Homo sapiens: one gene and its partners. The protein of the gene in region 6 interacts with the protein of the main gene of each other region in a pairwise test. Each region holds a gene or a part of one and is shown on either strand. Other genes may lie near its edges.

Evidence for each region.
Region 1: the proteins of COPB1 (region 6) and KDELR1 come close enough for resonance energy transfer, tested with the Homo sapiens proteins (one study listed by BioGRID).
Region 2: the proteins of COPB1 (region 6) and UBQLN4 interact in a two-hybrid assay, tested with the Homo sapiens proteins (one large-scale study listed by BioGRID and IntAct).
Region 3: the proteins of COPB1 (region 6) and GTPBP4 interact in binary tests that used the Homo sapiens proteins (3 or more experiments, as listed by UniProt).
Region 4: the proteins of COPB1 (region 6) and ANO1 interact in a two-hybrid assay, tested with the Homo sapiens proteins (one study listed by BioGRID).
Region 5: the proteins of COPB1 (region 6) and IRAK3 interact in a two-hybrid assay, tested with the Homo sapiens proteins (one large-scale study listed by BioGRID and IntAct).
Region 7: the proteins of COPB1 (region 6) and NUB1 interact in a two-hybrid assay, tested with the Homo sapiens proteins (one large-scale study listed by BioGRID and IntAct).

The regions. Positions count from the first base shown.
Region 1 is NC_000019.10:48,385,314-48,388,551, forward strand, and holds part of KDELR1 (ER lumen protein-retaining receptor 1), read right to left. Parts: intron 1-3,238. UniProt on the Homo sapiens protein: Receptor for the C-terminal sequence motif K-D-E-L that is present on endoplasmic reticulum resident proteins and that mediates their recycling from the Golgi back to the endoplasmic reticulum.
Region 2 is NC_000001.11:156,040,299-156,043,798, forward strand, and holds part of UBQLN4 (ubiquilin-4), read right to left. Parts: intron 2,616-3,500; coding exon 2,476-2,615; intron 2,080-2,475; coding exon of another isoform or gene 2,062-2,079; exon of another isoform or gene 1,955-2,061; intron 1,939-1,954; coding exon 1,855-1,938; intron 1,690-1,854; coding exon 1,574-1,689; intron 1,374-1,573; coding exon 1,187-1,373; intron 1-1,186. UniProt on the Homo sapiens protein: Regulator of protein degradation that mediates the proteasomal targeting of misfolded, mislocalized or accumulated proteins.
Region 3 is NC_000010.11:1,012,434-1,015,933, reverse strand, and holds part of GTPBP4 (GTP-binding protein 4), read right to left. Parts: intron 3,470-3,500; coding exon 3,272-3,469; intron 1,688-3,271; coding exon 1,622-1,687; intron 182-1,621; coding exon 38-181; intron 1-37. UniProt on the Homo sapiens protein: Involved in the biogenesis of the 60S ribosomal subunit. Acts as a TP53 repressor, preventing TP53 stabilization and cell cycle arrest.
Region 4 is NC_000011.10:70,161,817-70,165,316, reverse strand, and holds part of ANO1 (anoctamin-1), read right to left. Parts: intron 2,035-3,500; coding exon 1,977-2,034; coding exon of another isoform or gene 1,824-1,976; exon of another isoform or gene 1,612-1,823; intron 1-1,611. UniProt on the Homo sapiens protein: Calcium-activated chloride channel (CaCC). Plays a role in transepithelial anion transport and smooth muscle contraction.
Region 5 is NC_000012.12:66,244,714-66,248,213, reverse strand, and holds part of IRAK3 (interleukin-1 receptor-associated kinase 3), read right to left. Parts: intron 3,267-3,500; coding exon 3,204-3,266; intron 3,117-3,203; coding exon 2,952-3,116; intron 520-2,951; coding exon 43-519; 3' UTR 1-42. UniProt on the Homo sapiens protein: Putative inactive protein kinase which regulates signaling downstream of immune receptors including IL1R and Toll-like receptors.
Region 6 is NC_000011.10:14,479,312-14,482,811, reverse strand, and holds part of COPB1 (coatomer subunit beta), read left to right. Parts: intron 1-1,714; coding exon 1,715-1,822; intron 1,823-1,906; coding exon 1,907-2,053; intron 2,054-3,097; coding exon 3,098-3,243; intron 3,244-3,500. UniProt on the Homo sapiens protein: The coatomer is a cytosolic protein complex that binds to dilysine motifs and reversibly associates with Golgi non-clathrin-coated vesicles, which further mediate biosynthetic protein transport from the ER, via the Golgi up to the trans Golgi network.
Region 7 is NC_000007.14:151,365,812-151,369,311, reverse strand, and holds part of NUB1 (NEDD8 ultimate buster 1), read right to left. Parts: intron 2,374-3,500; coding exon 2,187-2,373; intron 1,452-2,186; coding exon 1,344-1,451; intron 578-1,343; coding exon 425-577; intron 358-424; exon of another isoform or gene 1-357. UniProt on the Homo sapiens protein: Specific down-regulator of the NEDD8 conjugation system. Recruits NEDD8, UBD, and their conjugates to the proteasome for degradation. Isoform 1 promotes the degradation of NEDD8 more efficiently than isoform 2.

The DNA of each region.
Region 1 (3,238 bases), on a different chromosome or scaffold from region 6:
GGGACCCTCCCTGGCCATCCTTCCCCCAGGACTGTCACATCACCCCATCTTATCTCCTTCCTGGCCACTCGCACCAGCAATTGAGCTCTGTGAGGGCTGGGATCCTACTTCTTGTTCACCCCGTGGCCCTAGCACCTAGCACAGTTCCTGAATGAGTGAGGAAATGGGAGTTAGCATCTATAAAGGGGTCCCCATGTGCTCAGCACAGGCCACCATTTAGGGAGCACTGACAACCATCATTCATGAGCAGGACAGGACATCATGGGACAGGGAAGAAGACATCTGCCAGCCCCCTTTCAGTCCCCAGCTCCCTGAAAGTGCCACCTGGGGTGATCTGTGATCTGCAGACACACTGAAACCTCAGAGAGCAAAGCCAGGTGGCAGGTGTGGCTCCTTGGTTGTCTTGGTTTGTGGAAGGAAGGTGGGGGGCACCAGGACCTATTCATAACAACTCATGCTTTTCTAGCATTTACGACATCCAAGGCATCGCTCCTTAGGGTGTTAACTGGCCTGAGCCTTAACCCCATGAGGTAGGTACTGTTGTCATTCCCATTCTACAGATGAGGAAACTGAGGCCCAAAGGATAAGAAACGTGTCCAGATTCCCACTGAAGCACGTAGAGTCCAGGACCTGCTCCCAGAATCATCCAGAATCCTCCAGGGAGGCTCTCGTGAAGCCAGGTTAGTTGATGCTGCTGGGAAACGAACCCATTAAATTGATGCCCATTCAACTCTCACCCCTGGGGTTGCCCTTAGGGAACAGAGTCACCGTTTAAAGAGAGACAGAAGGTCTGTTGCTTTTTTTTTTTTTTTTTCCTGAGGCCGAGTTTCACTCTTGTCACCCAGGCTGGAGTGCAGTGGCGCGATCTCGGCTCACTGCAAACCTCCACCTCACGGGTTCAAGTGATTCTCCTGCCTTAACCTCCCAAGTGGCTGGAATTATAGGCACTCACCACCACGCCCTGCTAATTTTTGTATTTTTTTAGTAAAGACAGGGTTTCACCATGTTGGCCAGGCTGGTCTTGAACTCCTCACCTCAAGTGATCCACCCACCTCACCCTCCCAAAGTGCTGGGATCACAGGCGTGAGCCACTGCGCCCAGTCTTGCATTTTTATCTATTCCATGCTGTTTGAATTTTTTTTTTTTTTTTTTGAGATGGCGTCTTGCTCTGTCACCCAGGCTGGAGTACAGTAGCACGATCTCAGCTCACTGCAACCTCTGCTGCCCGGGTTCAAGTGATTCTCCTGCCTCAGCTTCCCGAGTAGCTGGGATTACAGGTGCATGCCACCATGCCCGGCTAATTTTTGTATTTTTAATAGACAGGGGGTTTCAGCATCTTGGCCAGGCTGGTCTTGAACCCCTGACCTCGTGATCCACGATCCACCTGTCTCAGCCTCCCAAAGTGCTGGGATTCAGGCGTGAGCCACTGCGCCCAGCCTGATGTCTGAATTTTTAAAGAATATTTTCCTTAGGTCAGGCACGGCAGCTCACACCTGTAATCCCAGCACTTTGGAAGGCTGAGGCAGGTGGATCACTTGAGGCCAGGAGTTCAAGATCACCCTGGTCAACATAGCAAAACCCTGTCTCTCCTAAAAATACAAAAAAATTTTACCTGGGTGTGGTGGCTCATGCCTGTAATCCCAGCTACTCGGGACGCTGAGGCACGAGAATTGCTTGAACCTGGGAGGCAGAGGTTGCAGTGAGCAGAGATCGTGCCACTGCACTCCAGTCTGGGTGACACAGCAAGACTTAAAAAAAAAAAAAAAAAAAAGACGCCTGGGTTCTGGTCTGGCCTCCTCCACCTTCAGCAAGCCGCACTACCTCCCTCAGCCTCAGTCTCCCCATCTTCAAAATGGGTCTAGTAATCCCTAGTCAACAGGGCAGTTATGAGCTAAGTCAAGGGCTTGGATAAGTGATCCAAGCAAGGTGGTAACAATATGTTTGCAAAGTCCAGGGCCTGGAGCCAAGCCCAGGATTCCCACCACAGCATGATGCAGCCTCCCTCTGATATCTCTGACCCATGGGCCAAAGTCACCCTCTGTTGGATTTGTCTGGCCTATACAGTGCTTTTAGAGATATGTTTTGAAGGCCAGGCACGGTGGCTCATGCCTGTAATCCTAGCACTTTGGGAAGCTGAGATGGGAGAATTGCTTAAGACCAGGAGTTCAAGACCAGCCTGTCAACATGGTGAAACCCCATCTCTACTAGAAACACAAAAATTAGCCAGGCGTGGTGGCAAGCACCTGTAATCCCAGCTACTCGGGAGGCTGAGGCAGGAGAAACGCTTGACCTGGGAGGCAGAGGTTGCAGTGAGCCAAGATCGTGCCACTGCACTCCAGCCTGGGCGACAGAATGAGAGTCCATCTCAAAAAAGAAAAAAAAAAAAAAAAAAGAAATATAGTCTGAATCTGTGGCTAAAATTTTAAAATGAGACATCTTGCCTGAAAACTCCTGAATTATGGCTTCTGTTGAAAAGATCAGCACATCTGGCCACCCAGGCCTATCTTCCTATAAGGCAGGAGTGGGCACAGGTAAGAAAAGGTTACCCTGAATTTATGATTCCTGCCAGGCCCCAGGAGGCAAGAGATCGCAAACTTAGCACTGGCTCTCGCAAAATTCCTCCCAGGAGTTTGTACAGGTCCCAGCAAAACACCATGGAATAAAAATCATTAACAGCGAACATTTAAAAGTAAAAGTATCAGAGATGGGACTAAACACTTCAGTCATTGAACATTGATTGACACAGCACTTCCTACCTCATCCCAGATACTGTGCTTTATTAATACCAACCTCTCATTTGAACCCTATGACATAGGAACTGATTATCTCCATTTTACAGATGAGGAAACTGAGGCACAGGGTAGTTATGTGATTTGCCCAGAATCCCATAGCTGCTACATGGTAGAGGCAGGGTCCAAATCCTTACACTCTGATTCTAGAGTCTTTATGTGTTTTGACACCAGGCAGTGCTGCAAAGTCTCAGTAAATTCTCACAATGACCTGATCACAACTTTACAAATGTGGAAACCGAGGTACAGAGAGGTCAAGTCACATGCACGGGATCATGCTAATAGAAACTAGCAGATTTGGAGCCGGGCGCGGTGGCTCATGCCTGTAATCCCAGCACTTTGGGAGGCTGAGGAGAGTGGATCACCTGAGGTCAGGAATTCGAGACCAGCCTGGCCAATATGTTGAAACCCTGTCTCTACTAAAAATACAAAAAATAACCTGGCTTGGT
Region 2 (3,500 bases), on a different chromosome or scaffold from region 6:
GGCAGGAGAATGGCTTGAACCTGGGAGGCAGAGGTTGCGCCATTGCACTCCAGCCTGGGCAACAAGAGCAAAACTCTGTCTCAAAAAAAAAAAAAGAAAGCCCTTTCCAGTGCTCCTTGTTGCTTCTTATCACAGTCCACACATTTTTTTTTTTTTTTTTTTTTTGAGATGGAGTCTCGCTCTGTCACCCAGGCTGGAGTGCAGTGGCGCCATCTTGGCTCACTGCAAGCTCCACCTCCCGAGTTCACCCCATTCTCCTGCGTCAGCCTCCTGAGTAGCTGGGACTGCAGGCACCTGCCACCACGCCTGGCTAATTTTTTTTTTTTGTATTTTTTAGTAGAGATGGGGTTTCACCGTGTTAGCCAGGATGGTCTCGATCTTCTGACCTCGTGATCCGCCCGCCTCAGCCTCCCAAAGTGCTGGGATTACAGGCGTGAGCCACCGCGCCCAGCCAGTCCACAGAATTTAACTTGGGTTGCACCTGGACTGGACACCACCTAGTTTAGCTCTCTCGTGCCTTGCACAAAGCTGGGTAAACATACATTTTGGTTGAATGGCTTTTCCAGATGAGTCACAGAGGTCAGAGAAAGGTTAAGAGGCTCACTCGAGGTAGGTCATCCCTGCCCCTCCTGCCAGCCCCTGGCCTTGACTTTCCCAGGGCTTTGGTTACCTCGCAGAATCCCCCTCCCCAGAGTCTCAGAGATGGGGGCTGCTTTAATTATCAAAAGGATCCTTTGATATAAGCAGAAATGGTATAGTGTAAATTCTGGAGGTGGAATGCCTGGGTTTGAGTCTTGGCTTCATTATCTACTAGCTATGTAAGTGAGTAAGCCACTTAACCTTTCCGGGCCTCAGTTTTCCCCATCTTTAACACAGAAATAATAATAATAGCTTTCTCATGAGGCTATTGTGAGGAATGTGGTAAATGAGTCGTAAATGAGCTCCAAAATCTAAAGCATTTAGAACAGTATGTAGTGCACGGGTAAGTACCATTACTCTTCTCATCTCTATTTCACATCTGCACAAACTGAACTCAGGGAGCATCAGTAACCTGCCCAAGGCTAGCAAGTGGCAGAACAGGACCTGACTCCCAAGCTTGCCCTACTGCCTCTATTCTATTGCTTCCCTTGAAACCTCCCAGGATCAAAGTGGTGCTCCCAGCACCTGCCCCCACTGCCTCATGTACCTGTGAGTTTCCACTTCCAGCCAAAAGCTGGATCATCTGCTGCATGAGTTGCTGCTGGGCGCTGGAAGCCCCTGTTGGAGAAGATGTGGCTGGCGTGGCTGGTGAGGAAGTGGGGGCCTCGGGCGTAGACCCTGCGTTGCTGCCTGCTGAGGGTGCTGGGGTCCGGGATATCCCAAAGGAGCCAAGGCTGTAGGCAAGAGAGACCAAGAGGTAGGAGATGGCATCCAAGAAAGGGATGAGAATGTGAGATCCAGAAGGAAAAGCAGTTGGAAGAAACAGGAAAACAGACCCTCAGAGACACAAAGGATGCTGAGAGAGTGGCAGAGAGAAGAGTTGAAGGGGAGAAGTTGCTAGAACCTTGCTGCCCTCCTGCCCCCCTACCCTCACCTGGGTACCAGCCCAGGGGCCTCGGTCTGCAAGGTCTGTAGTCCCTGCTGGATCTGCAGCAATGCCTGCATGGCTCGGGGATTGGTAAGGATGGAGAGTGACTCTGGGTTCTGCATCTGGTGGGAAATAAGCAGAGAAAGGCATCAAGAGGTGGCAGGAAAGAGGAGACAACCTCAACTAGGAGTCCAGAGTCAAGCTCTGCCCCAACTTCATTTCCACCCATTGGGCTTCAGGGACTACCCCTTGCCCTCAACCTCCACCCATCTAGGCTCCTCACTCACCTGCTGCAGGAAGACTGGGAGCTGCAGGCGGAGCTGCTCCTGCAGTTGGGGGTTCCCCGCGAAGAGCGGCACATTCACCATCATCTGCCAGGGTGAAGGTAGCAGGGGGAGACCTGGGCCTTTTCACCCTAAGAATTCCCCCACAGCCTCAGACTCCCTGGGCACCCCCTACCACTGCAGGAAATCTGGCCAGCTTCTCCGGGGATCTCAAAGTATCCTGAAGGCCTAAGTGGGACAGTGAGAGGAAATGGAACTATGCTCTGGGTAATGAAGAGTATGAGGAGTCAGCCTGCTCAGCCCTGGGTCTGATGATGATGAGGACAGCTAACATTTCCAGGTATACAGAACTTACTCTGTCACACGCCATGTTCTAAGCACTTAACGTGTATTAACTCATTTAATCCTCACAACTATAGGAGGTAGGAACTATTGTTATTATCATCTTACAGATAAAGAAACTGGGAGGCTAAATAACTTGCTTAACTCACACAGCTGGGAAGCAGCAGAGCTTGGGATGCAAACCCAGGCAGTCTGGCTCCACAGTGTTTTGACCACAAGAAACTGCCCCCAACCAAGAGGAACTCTCTCCCCAACAATACTCTCCTCATGCTGGTTTCATACCTGAGCAGCAAAGTCGGGGTTCTGGGCAAGCGTCTGCATCATGCTGCGCATGTAGGGTGCTGAGATCACATTCTGCATCAGCTGGGGGTTCTCAGAGATCTGCTGGAGGAGGGCTTGCATTTCTGGGCTATTGAACATCCCTAGGACAAGGCGGAAAAAAAGAAAACAGGAGAGAAAGGGTCCAGATGGAAACCGAAGGCCTCACTTCAATCTACCTTACTTCAGACACCGAATGACTACAAAACTCAGAAAAGCAATGGTCCAGTGGGCACCCTAGGATTGTGGCATGAGTCCAAGTCTCTCCCAAGTCCAAGGTCATCTTGCCCTGCTTTGGCCTGGCCCCTTTTCCATTTACTTGATAAGGACAAGCCAGCTAGGAACTGGGTCTGATTTATGCCTCTCTGGACTGTTCCTGCCATAAGCTCAAATTATGTCCAATTTGGAAAGAAATGATTAAATATCATCTAGATCAAACTTGTCTTAGCAGCAGAGACCCTTTCCTCATGCTAAATCTCACTCAGAAACCAAGTGTGTTAATGGTCTGGCTGGAGCTGGGGCAGGAGGGCTGCAGCCTCTCCCATTGGGTCCTTCCTCATCCTGGAGATGAAGACCTTTCCAGGATGCAGGAGCACAATTTTAAAATCATGGATCAAGTTCCAGTCCTTACTTTACAAATAAGGAAACTAAAACACACAGAGGGAAGGAACTTTCCCAATCAAGATATCCCCCAGAGTGCAGAGAAATTAGAGCATCTGCTGAAGACATCCCCCAGGCCATGTGTACAGTCATAGTCCAGATAAATGGAGCATCCTCTAGGGTTGTGCAGTGCATAACCTGTTCTTCTGTACATGGCAAGCCCTGCACATCCCTTTCCCCCAGCCTCACATCTGCCTCTCCCCAGGTCTGCCTTGATTCCTCTCCAGCCCCCTCTCCCCACAGCAGTCTGAACCTTTTACACTGGATAATACCAGAGGTGCTCATGGAGCTTAGGAAGTGGGGCCTGGTTTACTCATGAGCTATTACTT
Region 3 (3,500 bases), on a different chromosome or scaffold from region 6:
CTGTCATTTTATTACATTACACAACACAGAGACTGACCTTGACATCCCTAAGACCAGAAACGTCACGTGGAGTTCGAGAGCAACTCCCACTCCGGGCCACAGAGGACGGGGGAGCAGAGTCTTCCCGCTTTCTTTTCCTAGTGATGCTCCGGGATCTTCTTGCCTGGACTGCGTAATGGGCCTGCAAAGCAGGGGAAGCAATGCTCAGCGCTCAGGACCCCAGGTCCACTCCCAGGCTCAGTGCTCAGCGCTCAGGACCCCAGGTCCACTCCCAGGCTCAGTGCTCAGCGCTCAGGACCCCAGGTCCACTCCCAGGCTCAGCGCTCAGGACCCCAGCCCCGCTCCCAGGCTCAGCGCTCAGGACCCCAGCCCCGCTCCCAGGCTCAGCGCTCAGGACCCCAGCCCCGCTCCCAGGCTCAGAGCTCAGGACCCCAGCCCCACTCCCAGGCTCAGCGCTCAGGACCCCAGCCCCACTCCCAGGCTCAGCGCTCAGGACCCCAGGTCCACTCCCAGGCTCAGCGCTCAGGACCCCAGGTCCACTCCCAGGCTCAGAGCTCAGGACCCCAGCCCCGCACCCAGGCTCAGCGACAGGCATGAGGTCACTCCAGCAAGAGGGGAGGAGAGGAGCGTCTGAACCATTAACACATGGGCTAAAGGTCTTGAAAATACACGCAGTATTTTCATATTAGTGACACCATTTCAAGTTCACATTAGTAACAATTTCACATTAGTTGTTGGTCAAATATTCTTATTCACTTAACGGAAGCTGCTTTACGTAAGAAAGCTGATTTTAACTCCACTTAAAGAAACTTAGAACTCTCATTTAAAAGTGATTATTATAGTATAGCATCACAATTTATATTTCAGATATAAACAATGCTCTCTCCCTCACTGCCCCATTTTGGGGGTTACTGATATGAACACAAAGGGACAACCATCAGACAGAAACCATCAGACGGAAACTGCAGACTGCACATCTAGAGGACAGGGTCTGCAGCCACACCCTGGGCACGTCATGGTGCTGTCTCGTGCTGGCTGTGGAGCTTTTTTTTTTTTGAGACACAGTCTTGCTCTGTTGCCCAGGCTGGAGTGCAGCCTCAATCCACCACTTCAACCCAGACCCAGGGTCAGGGAATCCTCAACCCATCACTTCAAGTCAGTCCCAGGGCCAGCGAATCTCAAAAGAGAAAAACTGGAAGCTCTCATTTCTTTTTGCTGTAATTTCCCACGTTCCCACGGCTTTCCAAAACCCTGGTTTCTTTCTTTCTTTTTTTTGAGATGGAGTCTCACTCTGTCGCCCAGGCTGGAGTACAGGGGCACGATCTCAGCTCACTGCAATCTCTGCCTCCCAAGTTCAAGCAATTCTCCTGCCTCAGCATCCTGAGTAACTGGGATTACAGGCACACGCCACCACGCCCGGCTAATTTTTTGTATTTTTTTTAGTACAGACTGGGTTTCACCATGTTGGCCAGGCTGGTCTCGAACCCCTGACATCATGATCTGCCCGCCTTGGCCTCCCAAAGTGCTGGGATTACAGGCATGAGCCACCACGCCCGGCCAGTTTTCTTTATTAAAAAGGTGTATCCAGCCACATAAACACATGAACCGCCCCCACACTCACATCGTCTTTATCGTCCATGTCAACACCAAGACTACGCATCTCCTTCTCCAAAACTGTCCTCTGAACCTGAGAAGGATAAAAAGAAATATTAGCTTTAAATTAGTTTGATGAAATGTTGAAAAAAACTTCAAGGCAATATATATGTATACATATTTTGCAACAATTATAATATACTTATTTTAGAAGTTGTAATTTTTATTGGGCCCCGCTTTCATGTTTTTGGATAGCTCAATTAAATCCCACGAAAACTAACATTAACAGAGCAGTTGCTGTGGGAAGAATCAGCGTATCCTCCACGTCTGTCCATTCTTCACCGCAACACGGGGGAGAGAGTGACCGTCTCCATCAGAGGTGAGACACTAAAGCTGAGGTTAGTGAGGTGGCCTCAGACAAAGGCAGTGCGCCAACCTCTCTCCTCCCAGAGATGGCTGAGCCCCACCTGGAGAAGTACAAAAATGTCCAAGTCCGCCATAACCAGTCACTTGCCACCATGTGAAAACAGTGTATTCAAACAGGAAGACCCACTGAGAGGCATCCTGAATGTCAAGTGACTTCTCTGGTTACATGTTAACTGCCCTGCATGTGGGCTTTCTTCCCCCAGTCCCACCCTGCCACAGAGCCAATAAATTGCCTTTTGTAGACTGCGTCAGGTTTCTGTAAATTGCTAAAGAGTCCAGATTTTTTTTTAAATTTTTTATTTTTTGAGATGGAGTCTTGCTCTGTTGCCCAGGCTGGAGTGCACTGGCACAATCTCGGCTCACTGCAAGCTCTGCCTCCCGGGTTCACACCATTTTCCTGCCCCAGCCTCCCGAGTAGCTGGGACTACAGGCGCCCGCCACCACGCCCAGCTAATTTTTCTGCATTTTTAGTAGAGACGGGGTTTCACTGTTTTAGCCAGGATGGTCTCAATCTCCTGACCTCGTGATCCACCCACCTCAGCCTCCCAAAGTGCTGAGATTACAGGCGTGAGCCACTGCGCCCGGCCTAAAGAGTCCAGATTTAATGCAGAAATTAAAGAACAAGAAAACCAGCCGGGCGTGGTGGCTCACGCCTGTAATCTCAGCACTTTGGGAGGCCAAGGCAGGCAGATCACTTGAGGTAAGGAGTTTGAGACCAGCCTGGCCAACATGGTGAAACCCCATCTCCACTAAAAATACAAAAGTTAGCCAGGCGTAGTGGCAGGTGCCTGTAATCCCAGCTACTCGGGAGGCTGAGGCAGGAGAATTGCTTGAACCCGCGAGGTGGAGGCTGCAGTGAGCCAAGATGGCGCCATTGCACTCCAGCCTGGGAGACACAGCAAGACTCCATCTCCCCCCTAAAAAAAAGAGAGAGAGAAAAAAGAAGAGGAAAATGTTCACTGATAGCCTTGAACGTCTGTGAACCATAAGTTACAGTTTTAATCTGTACAACTGCAAAATGACTGGATCTAGAGTAGTGCCAAACTCGAAGCTGAAAGTCACCAAGAAAGGACGCAGTAAAGAATATAAAAGATCAATACGTGAGCGATCTTGCAAATCCATACACCAATAAAACAAGAATGTGCAATCTTATGGCCATAAATGGGTTGAAAAGTTGTTATTTAGCAATGATCACACAGGAATCCAATTTTCAAAAACTAGATCACACTGCTTTGGAAAGACACAAACTTGCCTTCTTAGCAGTTCGCGGCATCCTGGGTCCCTGTGTATTCTTTTCTTTGGACTCCAGAATTTTCAACTTCTTTTTCTCTCGAATTTGCTTTGCCAGCTGTCGGATTTCCAGCATCTCTTCGTCTTCACTCTCAGATACACTGTCATACTCTCCAGCAGCTGTTCTCAGCTCTTCTTCTTTTTCTAATTCTTCCAATTTCTTTAAAAATGGAGTTGTAATGAAGCAAAAT
Region 4 (3,500 bases), about 56 Mb from region 6:
TATTTGCAAAAAGGGTCTTTGCAAATGTAGTCAAGTCAGGGTGTTTTCATGCTGGGGTGTTTTCAGATGGGGCGCCCATCTGAGGACTGATGTCCTCAGAAAAAGAGAAGGCGCGGGCACAGAGGGAAGAGGCAGCGTGAACATGGCGGCAGAGGGTGGAGAGGCAAGTAAAGGAACCATGAGGGCTTCCGTAGTCCCCAGAAGCTGGGAGAGGCAAGGCAGGTCCTCCCCTAGAACCCTTGAAGGGAACACAGCCCGGCTAACACCTGGATGTTGCACTTCCGACCTTCAGAACTGTGAGACCCCCATCTCTGTTACTTTAAGTCTGTGGGATCGAGTTGCGGCAGCCCCAGGAAACGGACACACTCCGCCTACAGGCTGCTGTGCTTGGGGCTGTGGATGGGAGCGGGGAGCGCACTGGGAGGGAGTAAGCAGGGGTGGGGCAGGGCCTCAGGGCGCCTCCTTTTTTCCAGGGCCACTGGCCGGTCCCATGCACCAGTCAGCATCCACTGGCTCTGCACCACCATGGCAGGCTGAGCCCCACAGGAGGCAGCAGCCACCCCTCTGAGGCCTAATGTCCCTGACTCAGTGGGCCTTTGCCACCTTAGGCCTGGGACCCGGCAAGCAGGTGACAGTCAGAAACCTATGTGGGCTGGAAGTTTAACTTGTCCAAGCAAAGGGAACACCAGTGATGCATGGTGACCCCTGAGGCACAGTAAACTTGTTCTGCATTCCAAATAAAACCTAACAAACCCTACACTTGTCTTGGAGAGCCATGCTTTTGGAAAAAGCAATTACACCATCTGCTTTATTATATGACTTTCTGACCCGGGACGAGTGTGACAGGGGATCATCATGTAAAAAGGAAAGAGCATTTCAGAAGCTTGGCGCAGATGCCCATTACTGTGGAGGAGGCCCGTGTCTTGGGCTGCCCAGGGGCCTGCATTCAGGTAGTGGAACCTCTAGGCTGCACTCCAGACAGCCAGATAATCCTGTACCTGATGTCCACCCCATCCTCGATATCTTATTCCACAGGGTCTTTTTCAAGAAGACTCACCCTCTTATTTTCTGATCAGCTGAATTACTCTGTGGGTTGGAAATGCTGAGACCAGAACCACTGATAGGCTCTGAAGCCCCGGCTTGGTCTGATGGAGCCCCTGGTTGTGGGACAAACAGTGGAGCAAGTCCATGGGCCGTGACAGAGGCTGAACCAGGCTGGCACAACCAGACCTTCTATGGCCAGGATCGCTGGGCAGAAAGCACATGCCACCAGCATGGTGTTTGAGGGTAAAGAGACAAGCATTTCAATGTCGAGTAAAAAAAAAAGTTAGCCAAGTTCTGTTTTGTCCTCATTAATTCATCTTCTTTTTTTTTTTTTTGAAATGGTTCCTTGCTCTGTCACCCAGGATGAAGTGCAGTGGCGAAATCTCAGCTCACTGCAACCTCCATCTTCCAGGTTCAAGCGATTCTCATGCCTCAGCCTCCCGAGTAGGTGGGATTACAGGCATGCACCACCACACCCGGCTAATTTTTTGCGTTTTTAGTAGAGATGGGGTTTCACCATGTTGGCCAGGCTGCTCTCGAACTCCTGACCTCAGGTGATCCACGAGTCTCGGCCTCCCAAAGTGCTGGGATTACAGGCATGAGCCACTGCACCCGTCCCTCATTAATTCATCTTAACCAGAAGAGAAATATTCAGTCTCACAAAAAAAGAAAAGAAAACCAGATGTTGTGTTTTTCTTTCATTAACTCTACAGCGACTTTATCCTTCTAGGTGATTCTATATGAACACACCAGATAAGATTAAAGCCCACCCCACCACATCAGGGGAACAGAAAAGTTTCCAGCAAGAAGGAAAGAAACCTGCTGCTCTTTGCTGAACAAATGTGCTGCAGCTGCTTCTCCCAAGTGCATGGTGTAGACAAATCGTAAGCAAGACAGAAGGGGCTGCCAGAGATGAATAAAATTTCGGTTACCTCTTCCATTCGGAAGGAACGGAAAATGTACACGTAGTCGCCCGGGCGTCCAACAAACCTGAAACGATGGGGGAGGTCGTTAGAGAAAAGATGAGCCCCTGGCTCAGCTCGGGGAGAGACCCCCAAGTGGGGACTGTGCAGCGTGTGAGTCCTGCAGGCTGAGCCTCGAGGGTATCTACAGGCGGCTCTCCCTGCCTGGTGCATCTGCTAAAAGATGACCACAGTGGTTTTCATTGGTCAAAGGTTGGATTCCCAAACCCAGAGAGGGGTCAGAAAAAGGAACTTCTTCAATGAGAGGCCACGAGACTGAGAGGCAGCGGGAAGGGGCCCAGGAGGGGATTAAGGCAAAGACCACCCGGCCTGAAGACTGCAAGCTGCTGCGCTAGCTGCCTGGGACTCAGGATGTGCCGCTGGCACGGTGGGGTCCATGGACAGCTGGCACAGAAGCACTCTGGGGACCTTGGGCAGCTGGGGCAGGTGGTGGCCAAAGGCCACCCTGGGTGGGGATAGACAACCTCTCGGCTTTCTAGGGGCTGGTGTGGGGCGTGTAGGCTTCCAAGAGCTTGCTCCATCCTGGATGCGCTCAGGGGGCACTGGACCCCTTGGCGGGGCCCTGGGACCCTGGGCCAGGAGGGCGGGCATGGCACTGGTGAATCACATGATGTGGAGGAGGCAGCCTTTTTGGGGGCTCTGAGATCAGACCAGCCAGTCCCTTGCAGGAGTGGTGGTGGGGGTGGGGGGCATCATTGTGGGTGGGCCGCAGGCCCCACCGCAGCCTGGGATGGCTCCAGAGGGCCCAGGCGTGGAAGGTTTCACTCCTCCAGGAGCTGTGAAGAGGGCTCAAGTGGCCAGCAGCCGCATTTCCACACCCTCCTCTCTCCTTGTCCCCACTTTGTGGACTCCTCCCTACGTGGACTCCTCCCTACCTGCCGTGGGAGCACCTGGAGCTGGCTTCTGGGGTTCTCTGCCTGGACTTCCTGCTGCTGGAGCTTCCCACTGCCTGGAGTCCCTGGGGTCCCCTCTGCCCAGGGTCCTCACTGCCTGGGGTCCCCACTGCCCGGGGTCCCCACTGTCCGGGGCCCTCACTCCCGGGTCCTCACTCCCCGGTCCTCACTGCCTGGGGTCCCCACTGCCCGGGGTCTGCACTGTCTGGGGTCCCCACTGCCCAAGGCCCTCACTCCCGGGTCCTCACTGCCCGAGGTCCTCTCTGCCCAGAGTCCTCACTGCCCGGGGCCCTCACTCCCGGGTCCTCACTGCCCGGGGCCCTCACTGCCGGGTCCTCACTCCCCGGTCCTCACTGCCTGGGGTCCCCACGGCCCAGGGTCCTCACTGCCCAGGGCCCTCACTCCCGGGTCCTCACTCCCCGGTCCTCACTGCCTGGGGTCCCCACTGCCTGGGTTCCCTGCCACCTGGACTCCCTGCTGCCCAGGGTCCCGCTGCTCTGGAGCCTCAGCAGGGCCCAGGCCTTCTCCCTGACCCTCTTTGGCTGCGGGTGCCACGGTGTCTGCCCTGCCCTGGGCTCCA
Region 5 (3,500 bases), on a different chromosome or scaffold from region 6:
GCCTATGCAATACTTGCTTTTTTCTTTATCTTCTGGTAGAATTTATTCTTTTTTGTACTGTTCATATTCATCCCAGGAAAATTTGGAGGAACAGCTGCTCTCCACTGGCCTGCTCCTGCAAGAATGCCCTGGAGCTTCTGAAGAAGGATCTATATTTACCTTATAGGGCCTTAAGTCCTGGGATGGAACTATATACTTTGGGAACCAACTTTCTTCACAAGAAGAACTGGGCATGTTGCAAGCTTCCTCATTTCTCTTGCTCTCTGGCTTTTTGTCCAAGCTCAGAAACATAACCTCAGACTGGCTGCATTCAAAAGGAGTTTTCTGAGTCATTCTGTCTATCCTCAGGCCTTCATCAGAAGGTAGTAAATTGTTATTCTGGCTTTCATCATCTTCCACTGGAATACTTGGTACATTCTCCAGGAATAGAGGAGAAGGACACCTGAAGGACTTTAGTGATGTGGGAGGATCTTCAGCAAAATACAAGCTGGCTTGAGTACTTTCAAGAGTATTTAAAACCTAATAACAAAGAAGCAAACAGACATTAAATTAAGTTTGAATAATCTTTCCTTTTACCTTTTATCACTCTACCTATAAAGAATATTCTTTCATTTTCATGAAATTAGTTCAGCTATAGAATTTTGAATTAGAAGGGATCTTAAAGATTAGCTAACGCCCTTTATTTTGAGGAGTAAATTAAGTGACTTAAAACCAGGTATAAAAGAAACTACACTAAAGTAAATACCAAGAGACCTGACTTAAGCCTCAGATTTGCCACCAACTAGCTTTGTGAACTTGGGCAAGTCTCTACATTTTTTACTTCAACCATAATATGTGGAAGATTGGAAGGGAATAAGGAAATGGTGGGCCCAACCTGTAATTCTTAAATGCCAGTTTTTTGTTGTTGTTCTTGTTTTGTTTGTTTGTTTGTTTTGTTTTTTTTTGAGATGGAGTCTCACTCTGTTGCCCAGGCTGTGGCGCAGTGGGATAATCTCGGCTAACTGCAACCTACGCCTCCCAGGTTCAGGCAATCCTCCTGCCTTAGCCTCCCAAGTAGCTGGTATTACAGGCACGTGCCACCATGCCCAGCTAATTTTTGTATTTTTAGTAGAGATGGGGTTTCGCCATGTTGGCCAGGCTGGTTTCAAACTCCTGACCTCAGCTGATCCACCCACCTCAGACTCTCAAAGTGCTGGGATTACAGTCGTGAGCCAGGGCCCCTGACTAAATGCCAGAAGTTTTAGGGAGCTCTTTTAAAGTGCATATCCCTTGGTCCCAACATAGAGATTGTCATTCAAAACATAAGGTGTTGAAGGTCCAGGAATCTGTATGTTAGAAGCTTCGGATGATTTGGATGTACAGCTAGATGTGAGAACCCTTGATGTAATTAATACACCATACAACATACCTTCATATACACACACACACGTAATTAAAAAAATACATATAGAGAGCTTTACAGTTTACAAAGTGCTTTCACATATATTATCTCATTTAACCTGTACAAACAACATTAATCATTCTCATTTTATAGATGATAAAGCCTGAGGCTCAGAAAAGGGAAGCAGTATCATTAGTCAGTAAGGTACAGACCTGCTGTTTGACACCGGATCTCCGGGCTTCCAATTCTCTGTCCCTGCACGATATATGTCATAGCTCCTTCCTGAGCCCTTGGCTCCACACAACTCTCACGGGTGGTGTCAGGCCTGGAATACAGCTCTCCTGCCTCGAAGGCCAGTGCTGTTTATATTCTGATTATGTCAACTCCTTGTTTAAAACCCTTGCATGGCTCTATGATAGACTCAGGATAAAATCCAAACTCCTAGAATGGAATTCATGTCCCTCTGTCATGGAAGCTTCTATTATTTTAACCACTCCAGGCTTTCCCTCACTGCTCCCCCTCCATGATGCTGAATTATCTGTGGTCTTAGCACCATGGGCTCCATCACCTTGGAGCCTTTGCAGGTATTCATTCTCTCTGCTTGGGATGTCTTTCCATCCTTACTGCTGCCTAAATCCAACCTGTTTTTCAGATCTTAGCTAAACCGTCATATCTATCAAAAAGCTTCCTTAACTTCCATGGGCTGGTGTGTATTCTGAATTCATGCTCCACGGCAACCTGGCCTTCTGTCTATCATCATGTTTCTCTTGCTGGACCAACATTCTATGTTTACTGATCTGACTCCTCTTAACAGTGAGCTTGAGGGTAGTCATTGCATCTTGATCACTGATATATTCCCAGCACCCAATACAAAGTCTGGCACACACAGAGTAGGCATTATTTGTTTATTTGTGCAAATAAACAAATAAATGAATGGGTGATTAAGTCTATGGATAGATTAATAAATTTAAAAAAATGGATAAGGAAAATATATGCTGCATTTATAATGAGCCAGATCTCTTAATGAAGACTGAACACTTTGGGAGGCCAAGGCGGGTGGATCACTTGAGGTCAGGAGTTCGAGACCAGCCTGGCCAACATGTGAAACCCCGCCTCTATTAAAAATACAAAAATTAGCCAGGCGTGGTGGCTCGTGCCTAATAATCCCAGCTACTTGGGAGGCTGAGGCAGTAGAATCACTTGAACTGGGGAGGTGGAGGTTGCAGTGGGCCGTGCCACTGCACTCCAGCCTGGGCAGCAGAGTGAGACTCTGTCTCCAAAAAAAAAAAAAAAAAAAAAAAAAGATTGAATAAAATATTCCCTGCAAACTGCTCATTTATGTCTTTACATTAAATTTTTTGTGGAGTCTTGGTTCCACCTAGAAATGACCTCTAACAGAGTACCAAATGATGTGGCTTTTTGACCTGGAAACACTATTATGTTGGAATTCTCTGTTGGAGGCTGGATTTGTCTCATTAACAAATAATTCACTTAGATACACAATTTATCTAGTTTAGATTTTCCATGGTTCTGTGGGCTCAGTTTTGAATAAAACCATGTATATACTCACTTCATCCATTGATGGTCTTAACTTTGCCCGCGTTGCAGCACACCGGCCTGCCAAACAGAAGAGCTTGGCAGAGAAATTCCGAGGGCAGGGAGGCACTTTCTTATCTAGAAATGAGAGACATGAATCCAGGCCTCTCTTCTCCATCAATTCTCTAAGGAGATCCCGCTTGGAAGAGAGGGAGACAATTTTATCACAGAGAACTTGATCAAAAAATGACCAAGAGATAGGTGCCAGGATGAAAACAATTCTTACCAGCTGGATATGTTTTGGATCATCTAACACTACTCTACATCCTGTTAGAACTTCCATTATTACCTACAAGGAATATATAGAAAGTCAGCTATATATCTTAAAAATATACACACAATTTGTTGCAACTATTAACCATGACTATGAATATAGTTCATTCTGATTAATGATTTTATATTTTATTAATTGCTTGATTACACAAAATTAATATATAAGATGAGCTAACAGGAAATCAATGAGTCAAAAGTTAAAACTCTTTAAAAAATTCTTAGAATCTAGAACATTCTTGGCAATAAACTC
Region 6 (3,500 bases):
GTAATCCCAGCACTTTGGGAGGCAGAGGCGGGCACATCATCTGAGGTCAGGAGTTTGAGACCAGCCTGGCCAACATGGTAAAACCCTGTCTATACTAAAAATAACAAAAATTAGCTGGGTGTGGTGAAGTGCGCCTGTAATCCCAACTACTTGGGAGGCTGAGGCAGGAGAATCACTTGAACCCAGGAGGCAGAGGTTGCAGTGAGCTGAGATCGTGCCACTGCACTCCAGCCTGGGCAACAGAGTGAGACTCTGTCTCAAAAAAAAAAAATGTTTTTCTAAAGTGAATCAGTATTATATTTTTTTATCTTTTCGGTTTGTACTGTATTGACTATTCTTAGCGACAGTGACATACTCATTTTAATTTGAATATAATTTACATTTCGTGGAAAATTATTATACCAATTGAGAATAAAAGGTGATCTGATTCTAGAAAATTATCACCATATTTGTTTAATCCATGAGAATAATAATGGTTATAAAAATAAAACCCCATGGCAGGTAAATGCAGTGCTGATCTTGGATCAGAACAACAGCAACAACAAATTTCTATGAAGGACATTATTGGGACAGATTGAGAAATATGAATATGGTGTGTATATTAGTTAATAGTATTGATCAGTGTTAAATTCTCTGATAATTATAATGTGGTTATATAAGAAATTATCCTTACCCTTGAGAGAGATACACTAAAATTATCAGCAGTAAAGAGCAAATGTGGGCCAGGTGTGGTGGCTCATGCCTAAAATCGCAGCACTTTGGGAGGCTGAGGCAGGTGGATCACCTGAGGTCAGGAGTTCGAGACCACCCTGACAAATATGGTGAAACCCTCCCTGTCTCCATTAAAATACAAAAATTAGCTGGACATGGTGGTGTGCAACTGTAGTCCCAGCTACTCAGGAGGCTGAGACAGGAGAATTGCTTGAACCCAGGAGGCAGAGGTTGCAGTGAGCCAAGATCTTGCCACTGCACTCCAGCCTGGGTGACAGAGCAAGACTCCATCTCAAAAAAAAGAAAAGAGCAAATGTGGGAAGATATTAACTGGTGAATGTAGGTGAAGGATATACAGGAGTTCACTCTTAGAACTTTTTTATCAGTTTCGAATTGTTTTTAAGTGTGCATCTTTTAAATGTTACATTTTCCTATGGAGTCAAATAATATCACATTTAACGAAATTGTTAATAATTTATGAATGTTATCTAATACCAAGTCTATATGTAGATTTTCCCAGTTATCCCAAAAGCCCTTTTTGTTTAGTTTGCCCATTTTGTGACCATGTATCGTATTTGGTGGTTATGCCCTTTCAGTCTCTTAATTTTGGACAGTATCTTTTTTTTATGACACTGATTTGTTGAAGAGACCAGACCAGTAATACTATAAAATGCCCCTCTTTCTGGATGTGTATGGCTACTTTCTTACGTTGTTTAGCTTGTTCTTTGACTTCTGTTACTTTCTATAAACTGTAAGTTGGAGCTTTAGCTTTAGCTTGACAGAGTCAAAGTAAACATTATCAGTTTGAATGTGTCATGTGCTATTATTTCATATTGCAGTGTATCAGGAGACCCAAACTATCTAGTTCTTCCACCACTAGTGGTTTTGTTATTGATTAAAGAATTAAAGTGATGATAGATAAACCCCACCATTCTGCAGTGAAGATTTTTTTCCTGTGACCAGAAAGATTGGTGTTAATTCTTGATTTTTTCTTCTTTTTTAGGATCTGGTTATGGATATCCTAAGAGTATTGAGCACACCAGACTTAGAAGTACGAAAGAAAACTCTGCAGTTAGCACTGGATCTTGTCTCTTCTAGAAATGTTGAAGAGGTAAAAGGAAACTCTGACAGCACTTTGTAGCTATCAGGCCCAAATATGATGTAACTCTCACTTATTTTTACTTCATTCTATAAGCTGGTTATTGTCCTGAAGAAGGAAGTGATAAAAACAAATAATGTGTCTGAGCATGAAGATACTGACAAATACAGACAACTCCTAGTGCGAACATTGCATTCCTGTTCTGTCCGATTTCCAGATATGGCTGCAAATGTTATTCCTGTGGTATGTAATTCTGATGACTTTAATTTTGAAATTATCTAAAAGAATTTTTTAAAAAATATAGTTATTTGACAAACTCCAGAAATCTCAGCTGCCTAGAACCATTAAATCTCATGGTGAGAAGTGATCTTTATATCTACCTCTACCTTTAAACTCAGAAGGGTGAGGACTGACTTCTTTCACTTATATATTCATCAAAAAAACAAAAACAGTGACCAAAAAAAAGCTTTGCATATTATTTTAATTGATGATACAGTTACCTAAAGTAAAATTATGCTGTGTATATATATTATTCAGTAAGGCAAATAGGTATTTATTTTAAATAGCTTTAGCTCTTAAAGGAATCAGTTATAGGAAAAATTCACATATGTAGAATATTTTGCTGTCACTGTCAGATAAGTGAGGTATGTTATTATAATTTGATTTTTGCCTTTGAGCTCTTGAGTTCTCTCTAAAATGATTTTAGTTACAATTTAGGAGGATCGAATTCATTTATTTATTTGGAGTTTTGGATCTCTAGCTTATCTTTTATAGTGAATTTTAAAATAAATTTTGCTGCACATAAAATGGAAAAGCCATTGTGACTTTGTTTACATAATAGTACTTGTCTCTCAATTTACATTTTGTTGTGTATTTGAAAATTATTAAGAATTACAAGGGTCAGGCATGGCACTTCATGTCTGTAATTCGAGCACTTTGGGAGGGCTAGGCAAGAGGATTACTTGAGGCCAGGGATTCAAGACCAGCCAGGGCAATATAGGGAGACCCTGTCTCTACAAAAAAATTAATATTAGCTAGGCATAGTGTCATGCCTGAAGTCCTAGCTCCTGGGGAGGCTGAGGCTGCCAGAGGATCACTTGAGCCCAAGAGTTCAAGGCTGCAGTGAGCTATGATTGTGCCACTATTCTCTAGCCTGGGCAGCAAAGCAAGACCCTGTCTCTTAGAAAACAAAAAAAGAATTACATTCTTTTAATTTATTTCTTGTCCTAGATAATTTTCTTTTCGAAAATTGTTAGTTCCATTTTCTTTTTTTTTTTTTTCTTTTAGTTAATGGAATTTCTCAGTGACAACAACGAAGCAGCAGCTGCTGATGTCTTGGAGTTTGTTCGTGAAGCCATTCAGCGCTTTGATAACCTGAGAATGCTTATTGTTGAGAAGATGCTTGAAGTCTTTCATGCTATTAAATCTGTCAAGTAGGTTTAAAATACATTTAAATGTAAGGTCAAGTAAGCATTTTATCAGTTTTTATCTTTAAAGGGTCAGTTGATAGAAAATAGAATGGAGAGGACAATCAAGCCAAAATAAGACAAGTTTGTACAACAAGCATCTCGCTAACTCCACTCTCATTTAGTCTATAATAAATGGCCCAAAATAATTTTTTTAGGAGTGATTTAGCTCAGGGTCTCTATTCTGATTTTCTCTAAAACATTGTGAATCTTAAAGTAACTAA
Region 7 (3,500 bases), on a different chromosome or scaffold from region 6:
TTTCGGCCAGGCGCGGTGGCTCACACCTGTAATCCCAGGACTTTGGGAAACTGAGGTGGGCGCATCACTTGAGGTCAGGAGTTTGAGAACAGCCTGGCCAACATGGTGAAACCCCATCTTTACTAAAAATACAAAAATTAGCCAGGTGTGGTGGCACACACCTGTAATCCCAGCTACTCAGGAGGCTGAGGCACGAGAATTGCTTGAACCCGGGAGGCGGAGCTTGCAGTGAGCCAAGATCGTGCCACTGCACTCCAGCCTGGATGACAAAGTGAGACTCTGTCTCAAGAAAAAAAAAAGGACAAGTTTCTCCTTCCTTCCCAATCTGGAGTAATAAAGAGTTCCTGGTTATTAACACTCCTGTGGGATTATCTTTTTTTGTTCTTTCATACCCAAGAGAGCTAGGGCATGTGAAAGTGGGTACCTCTCTGCGGTTGGTAATATGAGTGGCCGCATGATCCACGTTCCCATCACACGCCCTCAGGCCAAGCCGGGCTTCCTGGGCAGTAAACCCCAACTGCAACAAATTGTCCACTTTTGATGGATCAATATATAGCTCTTTAAAGAGCTGACGTGCCTAGAGACAGGGAAATGTAAGAATCATGTAACCACGGCAATACTTAAAGCTTAATACAAAGTGAAAGCCTAAAAGAAATTAGATTGTATCCAATGTGAATTAAAAGGCATCAGATTTTGGATAAAATCTCTAAACTAGGCCTGTTATTAACAAGTACAAATGGAAACAGACCAACACTACCTCTACTCACATAACTTAGCCACAGCACAACACGAGGTAAGAGGCTGGGTGTTGCAGAAGTGACTGGTAACCACTTTGTTTTTGCAACAAAAGCCCCCGAATTTCAGCTGTGCACGTGGCATTTCTCACCCTCCCTTGCAGCTGGGTGTAGCCAGGTAGTGAAGTCGAAGTCAATGGCATGCAGCCACAGCGCTGGGTGCAGCTGCGGGGTCATCTCTCCAGTGGCCTGCTCTGGACTCTCTCTTGCCCCCTCTGCTGGCTGGAAGAGGCACTGACAGGAGCAACCTAGGACGCCTCGCTGAGGCTGGCGGGCTGCTCACTGCTCCGGCCTGGCTCACCTCTAGACGGCAAGATGAGTGAGCCATAAACTTCTATCCAATTAAAGTCACTGTCTTTTTGAAGTCTCATTACAGCATCTGGCTGTACTCTAACATATACAAATATGTTTCTGGTTCAACATCTCCTGTGCACGGAGAAAGCACAGGCATGTTTCTCACAAGTCACAAACTACTAAGTTAAAATCCTTAACTTCTGGGAATGTTTTTTAAAAGGAGGTGAAAATTGGTTACAACTTTACTTTTCTTACCTTGTTAAGATACTCATAAGCCTCTACATCATTTCCACTGTGATAGTTTCGGATCCCTTGAAGTAAGTAGAGTCTTAGAAACAGTACCTTCTCTTTCCCACAATTTCCCTAAAATTATTGAAGAAAAAAAGGATAAAATTGCCTTATTTCTAATTACAGGTCTATAATACTCATCTCTGTCATTCCCTTGGTCTCCAGAGGGGCAACATGATAGGTATTAAAATGTCCATGGCTTCACTATGACTGACGGCAAAAGTGAAGCCCCCTCTTCCCCATCCCCTGTGGTATGATAACATTCCTCATGCCACACAGGAGAGTCAGTGTCAGGGCACCAGCCTCCAGACATGCAGCACAGTGGCCCTTCTGGTCAGCAGAGAAGTATGCAGAAATCCAAACCAGGTATCAGAGAGTCTGCATCAGCAGGATTTTGATGACTTGGGGAAATCAGAAAAATCCTTACTCGAGCCACAGCTCTTGAGCTGTGACTCATTCACGTAAACCATTACTGCTGAAATGTCTATTTTCTGCATTTACATCTTGCAAATTAGACTCTACCGATATAAAGAAGTCAGCAGCTCTCTCCTGGTCAGGGTGATCACTGATGGGGTTCTATGACTAGCAAACCATGTTCCTTTGGGCTAAATGCTCACACGCTAAGTAAGAGAGACAGCCAGATTTGTAAAACATTGAACACTTTATAAATATATAGTTTAAAAAGACTATACTGCATACTACTATCAAAATGAAATTACCTTCTGGCAGTAGTTCAAATACTTTAACAGGAATAAACACAAATGCTAGAAATGGACTCAACGAGACATAAGATGAATTCCAGGAACATACTTTTATGTGGACCAGTCTCTGATGATTTTCTCCGTAACAATTTTTAAAGCATTTCTGGGCCAAGTTTAATTTTTTTTCTGCATCATCAAGGCATTCCAGCTGTTCCAGGCGGAAGTAACACCACACTATATCCAGCTGGAGGACGGCGTAGTTATCCACTGTGTCCAGCAGCTCTCTGCAACACTCACTGGAAAGAGAAGGACAGTGACATCACTGCCAAGCAGCATTTGAAACATTTTTAGCATTTGAAACCTTTTTGTGAATGACTGGAATTCTTTCCCCGTTCTTGGTATATATTCAAAGGCTGACTGCTCTAAAAGAGAGATCCTAATGTTTAGGAAGGGAGCTGTGTTTATAATCTCATCCTTCTAATGGGGGAAAGAAAGAGAAATCAGAAATCAGGGCTTAGGAATCAAAGCTTACCACCACTTGCCCCAGGACACACATGCAGCCCCTTGATAGGAAGCAGAACCCAGGGCCACTGTTTCAGAGGCCCTCAGCAAATACGGGGAAGACCATGCTTTAAAGCTGTGACTTCCAATCCTGACTGCAAATCAGCATCACCTGGGCCAGAGCAACGTTCTTTCTTTCTTTCTTTCTTTCTTTAAGAATCATTGATCCCACCCAGACCAAACATAACAGAAATTTCTGGGGGTTGGGCCTGGTGGTTATACTGCCAGAGTCTCCCCAGCTGATTCTAGTGTACAGCCAGGGCTGAACACCACTTCTTTAAAGACACCAAAAAAATCCCTACGTACTATGAATGCCTCAGCTGATGACGGCTCTGACAAGGCATTCATGTTCAATCATATTCAAGCTGGGGGAAAAACAATCCAGAAAGCACCAGGCTCTAACGGCCCAGCTGATTTCTGAGGGCCTGTGTGCAGGCAAAATTTGACTCCGTATTCGTGGCAGCAGGCTGAACCCAGGCGCAGCAAAGGGAAGAAAGACAGCAACAGAAGTCAGTGTGCTCCAGGAGGAGCACTGACAAAGACAGCCATCAAGGTGACTAATTTTAAGTTATGATTACATTAAAAATTCCTAATGCCAATCTAGGTCTCAAGTCTTCAATAAGAACATTTGGAACCACACATTGTATATGAACAAGGTTTTCTCTCTTTATGTTCATTGGTGTTCTACTAAAAATAAGAATGCTCTTGTATAAAACTACAAAATCCACATGGCCTCAAGCTTCCTGTCCTGCCTATCAAAATATGCATGGAATAAAAAAAAAAGGACTTTAATTTTGTCATTTACTCTTTAAAACAGTAGTCTCCTAAAGAGGGCCCATGTACACAGTCCAGTTGTGGGTGC